2 separate regions of the Homo sapiens genome follow, and region 2 is linked to region 1. The links come from fine-mapping of genetic effects on gene expression. A gene starts in region 1. The other region holds a variant in brackets. All regions are shown on one strand. Distances are between the middles of the regions. Region 1 holds the start of MFGE8 (milk fat globule EGF and factor V/VIII domain containing). Region 2 overlaps ACAN (aggrecan).

What was found. PIP is the estimated chance that this variant, and not a neighbour inherited with it, causes the effect.
Region 2: its variant is the best candidate, but not a certain one, in a credible set for the expression of MFGE8 in whole blood (TOPMed, PIP 0.53).

The regions. Positions count from the first base shown.
Region 1 is chr15:88,910,309-88,915,681 of GRCh38, forward strand. It overlaps MFGE8 (milk fat globule EGF and factor V/VIII domain containing), which reads right to left and starts at 3,071. Exons shown (of 8, transcript NM_005928.4): 1 at 2,939-3,071. The coding sequence starts at 3,011. RefSeq lists an enhancer at 2,281-2,812.
Region 2 is chr15:88,858,418-88,863,790 of GRCh38, forward strand. It overlaps ACAN (aggrecan), which reads left to right. Exons shown (of 19, transcript NM_001369268.1): 12 at 1-1,000; 13 at 1,909-2,022. Among named protein-coding and RNA genes, the nearest start is that of HAPLN3, 34 kb to the right of the region's middle. The variant AC/A (reference allele first, on the strand shown) is at 2,763.

The sequences.
Region 1 (5,373 bases):
AGGACTTTCAGGCAGGGGCAGTGGAAGGAAGCATTGTTCTGGCCCATTGAGCAGGTTCCGCCCACCAATTCAGGCACAGGTTGCAGTCACAGATGTCACCTCCAATGGCAGCCCTGACTCAGGAACAGCACGATGATCATCCAGGAAACACTGGGAGGGCCAATGACCATGCTAGGCCCCCGAGACAGAGAAATCAGATGCAGCGCAGGCCTCAAGAAGCCAAGGGGAAAGAGGCCAGCAAGTCCACAGATGAGGAAGATTGCCCAACGCTCCAGAAGCCTGCATGGACCGTCACTGGAGGCATGATTTCTGCTGGGGAATTAGAAGTTCCCCAGAGGAGGGAATATTTGAGCTGGGTCTAGAAGACAAAGTAAGGGGGGTGCCAGACTGGGCAATGAGTAAAGAATGTTCCAAGAAAAGCAGATGCACAGAGGGTGTGGTATGTTGGAGCACAGTTAGATGCAGCTGGAAGGGTAGGCTGGGGCCAGACTGGGAGGGATCTGAAGAATGACAAGTTTAGTTTTTCATCCCGTAGAGCAGTGGCTTTTAACCTTCCTTCACCCTCCTCACCATTGTCCACCAGGGGGGAGAAAAAATAAAAATAAAATAAAAAACAAGAAACAAGAAACAGAGATTCTCAAGTGTGAGATGGGAGTGGGAAAGTCAGTTCCAATTGCGGGATGAAGAAGGCTGAAAAGGCCCATGTGCAGACATGCCGCTGAGCTCTCCCAGGGTGGGGAGCATCTGGTAGCTGCAGACAGGTCCCTCTGGCTGAAATGCAGAAATCCCACTGAAGAGGGTGAAGGTGGAGAGCAGGAGAGCATGGTGAGAGAGGAAGTCAGGGCAGAGGAGTGAAAAGGAAGGGTGATTTCAGAACCACCAGGGGGCAAGGGCTGGAGAGGCCACCAGGGCTTCTGGATGGGAACCTGGATGACAGATGTACACTATCAGCCCCGGTGGTGGAGAACACAGGAGAAGGAACAGGAGGGCCTGTCCTCAATCCCTTGACTCTGGTGGGTCGGCCGGGCCCAACAGGAGTCCTCTAGCCGACATTAGCATCCCAGAAGGGCTGCCCCAGACCCTACACCCAAATCTGTCATTTGGAGCAAGACATGAGACATCTTTTTGCCTTGGCCGGGCATGGTGGCTCACACCTGTAATCCCAGCACTTTGGGAGGCCGAGGTGGGAGGATCATGAGGTCAGGAGATCCAGATCATCCTGGCTAACACGGTGAAACCCCGTCTCTACTAAAAATACAAAAAATTAGCCGGGCCGGGCGTGGTGGCAGGTGCCTGTAGTCCCAGCTACTTGGGAGGCTGAGGAAAGAGAATGGCATGAACCCAGCGGGCGAAGCTTGTAGTGAGCCAAGACCGCGCCACTGCACTCCAGCCTGGGCGACACAGCAAGATTCCATCTCAAAAAGAAAAAAGAAAAAAAAAAAAACCTTTTTGCCTCCCCCTCAGAGTCACCCATCTAAGGCTGGAGAGTCCTCCTGAAATCTCAAAGCCCCTTCATCCCACTCCAGGGAAGGCAACAACACCATTAATGAGCGATCTGCCCTCAGAGCTCCCCCTCCAGGGGCCTCAGGAGCTTAAAGTGGCTCCCAAGGAGCTATTAGTCATTGGCTTTAAATAGCAGGTAATCCTTCCTCTGACCTGGCAGGCGGGGGCGAGCATTGACACAGACAGAGGCTTGGGTTGGGAATGGACTCTTCCCTCCCAACTGCACCGGCCCTCTCCCTACACTGCTCCAGGGCAAAACGGTCCAGTGGGAAAAAGGGAAAGGGAAAGGTGTACTCTACCCAGCCACGTTACCTGTGTGTAAGATAGGTATGGTGTTTCCTCCTTCTGGAAAAGGCCACATCACCCTGTATAAAAACATCTTTGGGACTTCAGAGTCCTGCTCTTTCGGGGACTTTCCAGTAACATTTGGCCAGAGTTCAGGTTGGGGGGTACAGGGAAGAGTAGAAAGGGGCTAAGAAGATCCAGCTGTCTTTCATGGTGGCCGGGGAGGGCCAGGAGCTCCCAAGTTCCTGGGAGCTTGGAGCACTCTGGAAGCTCTAGCCCCGAGGGTCAGGCAGATCACAGGACATAGGGCTGGGGCTCAGCTGTTACCTACCTTGCTTCAGTCAATCCCATTTCTATGAGAAAATGATGGAGGGGCCACCTAAAGAGTCCTGGCCCTGACTCCCTCCCAGCGCTCCACGGTGAATGGCACGGGGCATCCGCAAGTCCAGCCTGCAAGGGGCCCAGCTGGCCTCCGGAGGCCTCCTGGGAGGCGGAGGAGGACCGGGGAAGATACAGCAGCCGGCCAAGGCCGCGGGAGGGAGGGAGTCAGGAGACTCCCATCAGCAGGCAGCCCTCTTCCAAGCTCCTCGAAGCCTCTGGGTCCCCTCCCGGGCCCCACTTACGGCCTGCGTCCATTGCACCGACTCCCCGGCCCTTCCCTTATGTGACCAGGCACGGACAATTGGGAGCGCAAAAATCCAATGAACTGTCCAGCCAACTGGAGTTGGCAGGGAGATGGCCAGGACAAAGTTATCCAGACAAGACTTATCCATACTAGAGTCCTAGAATCTCCCAGGTGGAAGGGGTTCGAAAGTCAAACGCAGTTCCCTGGCCTCATTTTTCACCAGGGAAAAGAGAGGCCCGACACAGCGGATTCCTTTGTCATTATCTGTAAGCCGCATCCCTGGGGGCGGCAGGGCTGTCACCCGATGTCCCGAGTCCCAGCCCAAAAGCCCCAGCGCAGAGACAGCAGGGCCGCATCCCCCTGTCCCGCCAGGGCGCAGCGGAAGAAGCCGCCCCTCTGCCCAGCCCGGTCCCCGGGGCTTTGTCTAAGTTTGTCAACAGTGGAGGTGGAGGGCGGGCGCCGGGCAAACTTCCGAGCGGCGCGGGGAGGAGGGGCGAGGGGCAGAGGGCGGCGCGATCCACTCACCCAGGGCGACGAGGAGGCTGGGGGCGCAGAGCAGCGCGCCGCACAGCGCGGCCAGCAGGCGGGGGCGCGGCATGCTGCGGGGACGCGGGCGCTGGAATGGGCACGCTGGGCTGCTCAGACCCCGCGGGGTTCTGGCGCCTTCTCCTCTGGGACCGGAATAAATCAGGCGGCTCAGCACCTCCCACTGGCCGTGCGCTCCGCCCAAGCTGGCCAGAGGCGGACTGGGGGCGGGGCTCCGCGGCTGGGAGGGAATTGGTTGAAAGGAATTGGGGGGCGCGGGGGTGGTCCGCGATATCTGCCTCTTCCGCCACTGCCACACCGGCGTCCCGCGTCGTGCCAACGGCCGGGTCACGAGTCTTGAGTCTGTTGGGCGGGAAAAGTTCAGGAGTTTTGTTTTTAAGATTTTTAGACTTGAAAAGATGCTAACTCTTTATTCATAATCAGATAGATGCAAATTAAAACTACAATGAGCATCGTGTTTCCCTTCTCGGATCGGCAAGTATCAAGATGTTAACAAGGTTAGTGGAGGCTGTGGGGAACAGGTCCAAGCATGCTTCGCTGAAGACAGTATAAATTAGTTCAACTTCCCTAGAGGGCTATTTGGTAACACCTATCAAAACGACAAATGCTGACACCTTAAGACCTAGCATTTCCACATAGAGAGATTCATTCTACAGAAACTCCCATGTGCAAAATGACAGATATACAAAGATAGCATAGCAACATTGTCTGAAATGGTAAAATACTAAAAAAAAAAAATCAGCGAAGGTTTCTGTAAAGGGCCTAATAGAAAATGTTCTCTGATATGTAGGCCCTGAGTCTCTGTAGCAGCTATTCATCTCTGCCTTTGTTGCAAGAAAGGCACCATAGACAAAATGCGAGGAAATGGGCACCTGTTTGCCGAAAGGGAATAAAACAAAGCAAGCCTGTCACCGTTGACTTTTTACTAAATGATTTGTACTTATCATGTGCAAATATTACCTGTTTACAAATAAGTGATTTTAATAATAGTGTTTTGGCTGGGTGCGGTGGCTCACACCTGTAATCCCAGCACTTTGGGAGGCCGAGGCACGTGGAACACCTGAGGTCGGAGTTCAAGACCAGCCTGGCCAAGATGGTGAAACCCCGTCTCTACTAAAAATACAAAAATTAGCCGGGCGCAGTGGCAGGTGCCTGTAATCCCAGCTACTCGGGAGGCTGAGGCAGGAGAATCGCTTGAACCCAGGCGGCAGAGGTCCCAGTGAGCCGAGATCATGCCACTGCACTCCAGCCTGGGTGACACAGTGAGACTCTGTCTCTAATAATAATAATAATAATAATAATAATAATAATAATAATAATGCTTCAGGCTGGGAGTGGTGACTCAAGCCTGTAATGCCAGCTCTTGGGGAGGCCGAGGTAGGCATATCACTTAAGCTCAAGAGTTCGAGACCTTCCTGGGCAACATGGCAAAACCCTGTTTCTACAAAAAAAGAAATACAAAAATATTCCAGGCGCATGCCTGTAGTCCCAGCTACTCAGGAGGCTGAGGTGGGAAGATCGCTTGATCCCAAGAGGTCGAGGCTGCAGTGAGCCACGATTGCACCACTGCACTCCAGCCTGGGCAACAGAGCGAGACTGTCTCAAAAAATAATAACAATACTAATACTAATAAGTATTTAAGTCAGACTAGCCAACAAACAAAATAGAACAGTCACACATCTCCCCTCCTAGCTGTGTTGAGACCTAAGTTGGGACTAGAGTCCACTGGCAAGATGCCCTTCTTAAAATATTCAGAAGCGGGTACTGGGCGTGGTGGCTCATGCCTGTAATCCCAACATTTTAGGAGGCCGAGGCAGGCGGATCACGAGGTCAGGAGATCGAGACCATCCTGGCTAACACAGTGAAACCTCGTCTCTACTAAAAATACAAAAAAAAAATTAGCCGAGCGTGATGGTGGGTGCCTGTAGTCCCAGCTGCTCAGGAGGCTGAGGCAGGAGAATGGCGTGAGCCCGGGAGGCGGAGCTCGCAGTGAGCCGAGATCGCGCTACTGCACTCCAGCCTGGACAACAGAGCAAGACTCCGTCTTAAAAAAAAAAAAAACATATATATATATATGGGGAAAAGACATATAGGATCAACTCAATAATCACAGAAAAAGCATTTGATAATATCCAACACGTCTTCGTGATAAAACACTCAACAAACTAGAAGTGAAAGGGAGCTTCCTCAACCTGATTTTTAAAAATCTATGAAAAACCGATGGGTACAGTGGCTCACGCCTGCAATCCCAACACTCTGGGAGGCTTAGGCGGGCAGATCAGCTGAGGTCAGCAGTTCGAGACCAGCCTGACCAACATGGTGTAACCTGGTCCCTACTAAAAATACAAAAAGTAACCAGGCATGGTGGTGCACACCTGCAATCCCAGCTACTCAAGAGGCTGAGGCACAAGAAT
Region 2 (5,373 bases), 52 kb before region 1:
GTAACCCAGGCTCCAACAGCCCAAGAGGCAGGAGAAGGGCCTTCTGGCATTTTAGAACTCAGTGGTGCTCATTCTGGAGCACCAGACATGTCTGGGGAGCATTCTGGATTTCTGGACCTAAGTGGGCTGCAGTCCGGGCTGATAGAGCCCAGCGGAGAGCCACCAGGTACTCCATATTTTAGTGGGGATTTTGCCAGCACCACCAATGTAAGTGGAGAATCCTCTGTAGCCATGGGCACCAGTGGAGAGGCCTCAGGACTTCCAGAAGTTACTTTAATCACTTCTGAGTTCGTGGAGGGTGTTACTGAACCAACTATTTCTCAGGAACTAGGCCAAAGGCCCCCTGTGACACACACACCCCAGCTTTTTGAGTCCAGTGGAAAAGTCTCCACAGCTGGGGACATTAGTGGAGCTACCCCAGTGCTCCCTGGGTCTGGAGTAGAAGTATCATCAGTCCCAGAATCTAGCAGTGAGACGTCCGCCTATCCTGAAGCTGGGTTCGGGGCATCTGCCGCCCCTGAGGCCAGCAGAGAAGATTCTGGGTCCCCTGATCTGAGTGAAACCACCTCTGCATTCCACGAAGCTAACCTTGAGAGATCCTCTGGCCTAGGAGTGAGCGGCAGCACTTTGACATTTCAAGAAGGCGAGGCGTCCGCTGCCCCAGAAGTGAGTGGAGAATCCACCACCACCAGTGATGTGGGGACAGAGGCACCAGGCTTGCCTTCAGCCACTCCCACGGCTTCTGGAGACAGGACTGAAATCAGCGGAGACCTGTCTGGTCACACCTCGCAGCTGGGCGTTGTCATCAGCACCAGCATCCCAGAGTCTGAGTGGACCCAGCAGACCCAGCGCCCTGCAGAGACGCATCTAGAAATTGAGTCCTCAAGCCTCCTGTACTCAGGAGAAGAGACTCACACAGTCGAAACAGCCACCTCCCCAACAGATGCTTCCATCCCAGCTTCTCCGGAATGGAAACGTGAATCAGAATCAACTGCTGCAGGTATTGTGATTTTTTCCCCCTTTAAATGTGCTTAGGTAGTTCAGACTGTAGCCTACTGCAGCACAGAAGGAGGCAGCATAGCTTTAAGGTTCCAAGAACAACTCCACCAAAGGTTAGCTGTGCAGCCTCAGGCAATAGTCTTCCCCTCTCTGAGCCTCATCTGTAACGTAAGAGTAGGATAATACTCTACCAGGGAAGATTAGGCAGAACATAAACATAGATAGATAAAGCAAGCACTTAGCATCACGCTCTGCATGCAGTGCACACTTGTAAAGATGAGTGATGTTATCGTTACAGCGGAGTTACAGTCCGTGAGTTTTTACACGTGAATTCAACTATCTGTACTTGGCACAGGGAGAGAAGGATGACTGTCTAGATAGTGCTAGAAATTCTGCTCATGCACCCTGCCCCGGAGTGAGTGTAAGATGAGAGAGTAAATCTGCTGATGGTGTTTATGTCTGAATATTTATTTTGTGCAGGGTTAAAACCTGCACAACTTAAGGAACTATGAAGTGTCATTTGGCTATCTGGTTTTAGATTCTGCATCCCCAACCCCATCCGTGTACAAAGGGGCTCCTGTACTATCATGATTGTCTCACCGTGACATAACTCCAAGTGCCGGGCAGCGGGCACTGGTAGCGGTAGCTGATTTTCCTTTTTTTTTTTTTTTTTTTTTGCTCTGGGGTCCCTTGTACCTTCCTTTGTGCTGAGAGAGCTTTCACAGCTAGAGAGCTCCCCCCGATGCTGTGGGCCAGGTGCCCAGGAGGGACAGAGGCCTCAGAAAAGTGCTGACCCAAAGCCAGCCTCGTGGACTTCAGGAACCTCATGCCCCAACTTTGAGGTCTTGGAGGCCATGGTAGCCAGGTGACTGTGTTCTTGATGCTCAACCTCTCCCCTGGGGGTTGCAGCCCCCGCCAGGTCCTGTGCAGAGGAGCCCTGTGGAGCTGGGACCTGCAAGGAGACAGAGGGACACGTCATATGCCTGTGCCCCCCTGGCTACACTGGCGAGCACTGTAACATAGGTAAGGCCCTCATTGGCCGTGGAGAGTGAGGGCGGAGGCGCTGGACAGACTTCTTCATCCCCCAAAGGGTCCCCAGGTGGGAGGAGGCAACCAAGGTCCACTGAGGCTCAGGCTGGGAAGGAGCTGCATGATGACATGTCAGGGGCAGAAGCCACAGGACAGACATGGCTTATCTTTCTCGAATGTCTAGGTTTAGGAGAAAAGAGTCAAGTAATTAAGTTGCTAAGTATTTTTATATCAGGCTGATGACTATTGTAGGAGTAGAATGAAAAATGTGCTTGAATTTTGGAGATGAGACTTCAAAGAAATATCGAGCATGGGGTGAGTATTAAATACAGCGGGTCACACCTCTCCGCTCCTGGTGAGGAGTGTCTGAGTGGGGCCATCTTGTATCGTGCAGAGTGAACCCCACCAAGTTGCCTCCATGCTTGGGTCTGCGTGGGGTTTGGGTCCCCTTCTTGCCCTGAAGGAAATGACACAAACAACGGTAATCACCCAGCACAGGGATTCGTGGATGTAGGGCAGCTGTAACCCAGCAGCACGTCTGCCCAGGCACCCACCATGAGCCTGTTTGTCCTTAGCTATGGGTGAAGCAGCCTGTGGGATGGGTGGAGAGGCTGGGGACCCTCTGATCTGAGGTGGACCCCGGAAGGAGATGGTTAGAATCTACCTGTTGTTCCACGGACACACGGGAGGCCCGTGGTCATGAGGACATCTCATCTCATCTTATCAACATCACC[AC/A]CTTGAGGAAAGAAATGCCCAGTTACCACCAAGCTCATGTTCTTTCATTAGTTCTCCCACTAACCCCAGTGCCCTTATCCCCAGCCTCCCTCCTAGGTCAAGAATCAGAGACCTAGGGTCTTTCATAAAAGGGGTCACTCCTAGGACATGTGCAAAAATGAAAAAACGAATCCTGGAGAAAAAACAATCACTTCCACGTAAACCTCATGTCGGGCAATTATCCTTCGATAGCCTTTACATCAAACACAGAGAAGAATTCTGTGTCTATATATATTAATATACATGCAAATTAATACATCATTATATATTATTATATATCATATAAACATGCTGTATACATGGTACATATGCAGTAACTATATATGTATATATAAACAGACGTTAGGGTAGATATTCATTCACTCTTTCCCCAACGTGTGGGCTGCAAGGACAGAGAGGGTGGGCTATCCTGGGAAGGTCCCGGGCTTACTGCAGAAGGGGACAGCATTTCCACTGGGCCATAGTGACCCCAGGGACCATAGCTGCACCCCACCATCACTCACCCCTGATGGGTGACTCCACTCTTGGGAAATCCTTCTTAACCTGATACTTGAGGCAAAAATCTGACACTAGCATCAGAAGTCAAAGCAAGGCTCATGTTCTTGGCAGCCCTGAAATTAATAGGAGTAAGTGTCAGTGGGCCGTAACTATTCTGCTGTAAGGACAGCCTCTCTGTGATCATGTATATTTCCACAGGGCTTTTGTTCCCACGATTTCTCCCCAGATGGCTCTGTAAGCAGCTTGGTAACTACCCCCATTTGAGACTGGAACTCAGAGGAGTTAAGTAATTTGCCTAACTATACTGAGTAAGTGGATTGAATCAAGAATCAAGACCTTAATTCACGTGTTTAACACACTCGGCTAAATAAGAAACTCCCTCTTGAACATAACAACCAGTTGCTGGTCTCAAAAAACTGAAGCTGGACTTCAGGGGAGCCAGAATGGGGAGGAGCTGAGGAATCTGAGGTGGTCGGATTCAAGACTTGCAGCCCAGCCTTCATTTTCCTCATTTGTAAACAGGGATCGATGGTAATGGTTCTCAGCTTTGAAAAATTATGATGCCTGAGATCTACCCCCACAGATTGTGATTGAAGTGGTTCTGTGGCCTTGGCATTGAGGTTTTTAAAACTCCCAGGCGACTCCAATGTGCAGCCAGGACTGAGAACCGCTGCTGTGAGGGTGAAGATCACCCATGTACAACATCTGGTCAGAAGAGGCATTTAATAAAAATTGCTTCCCTTTCCCCATCTCTCACTCTACTGGCTAAGAGAAGCTTTAGCATCTCCAAAGAGTGAGTGGTGGGGATCAGCCCAGCACAAAACCTGGGTCTCTTTTCCCATGACTGTACCTTGGGGTCCCAGGTCACTCTTGTTCAACTTAGCTCAAGGTTCAAGTGCTTCCAGAAGGACTGCAGATAGTGGCCAGTCTTCACGGGTGACCCACGATTGTCTTGCACCACAATCAGGAACTACAGGTTGTTAAAAAGACCACGGATCGGCCAGGTGCAGTGGCTCATGCCTGTAATCCCAGCACTTTGGGAGGCCAAGGCGGATGGATTGCCTGAGGTCAGGAGTTCGAAACCAGCCTAATCAATATGGTGAAACCCCATCTCTACTAAAAATACAAAAATTAGCTTGGTGTGGTGGCGCACCCCTGTAATCCTAGCTACTCGGGAGGCTGAGGCAGGAGAACTGTTTGAACCCAGGAGGCGGAGGTTGCAGTGAGCCGAGATTGTTGCACTGCACTCCAGCCTGGGTGACAGAGTGACACTCGGTCTCAAAAAAAAAAAAAAAAAAAAGAAACAAGACCATGGATCAGTATCCTCGGGGGGCCATAGGGAGCAAAATGCAGCATGATTCCTGCAGTAATATTTGAATCCTCAGGGAAAACTTCCACCTGGTCAAGGGGGTCAGAAGCTGTATTTAGTCCTTAAAAAAAATTGACAATTACTGTCATCTTTTTTAGTCAATCTTCCATAAATAAGTTCTTGATAAGTTATTATAAGTTATTTAGCAATTAAAAGCAAGACTATTCTATTCTGACCCACTTCAAAAACAGCAGCGTCTTTCCCCACTTCCATTACTGACATCACCCAAGGGAATTAGGCTTCAGACTCTAAGGTTTCTATCCTGGCTGCAGCTTAGAATCACCTGGAGTGCTTTTAAAAAGCATCATGCCTGGGCCCCACTCTGAGATAGTCTGATTCAATTGGTCTAAAGAGGAACTTCAGCATTGGTATTTTTAAAAAATCTTTAAATAGGAATATTTTTAAAAACTACTCCAGTAATTCTAATGTGCCAGCCAAGGATGAAAAATACTGTTCTAACCAGATCTCACATCCAATTTCCAGTCATCACTGGTGCTATGTAGCCTTCTCTTATCTCCTCTGTTAGGAGGGCACGACCTTAAACTGAATCAGTTTCCTTCCTATCTTACTGCTATTTTTCAGTTTCTAGGTTTGAAGCTCTGATCTATGACTTTCCACTCTCTCTTCCTCTAGGAGAGATGTTTGAATTTCAGAGAAACCTCTATCCTTGAGAAAGAAATGTTTTCAAAGCAAATGAAAATATA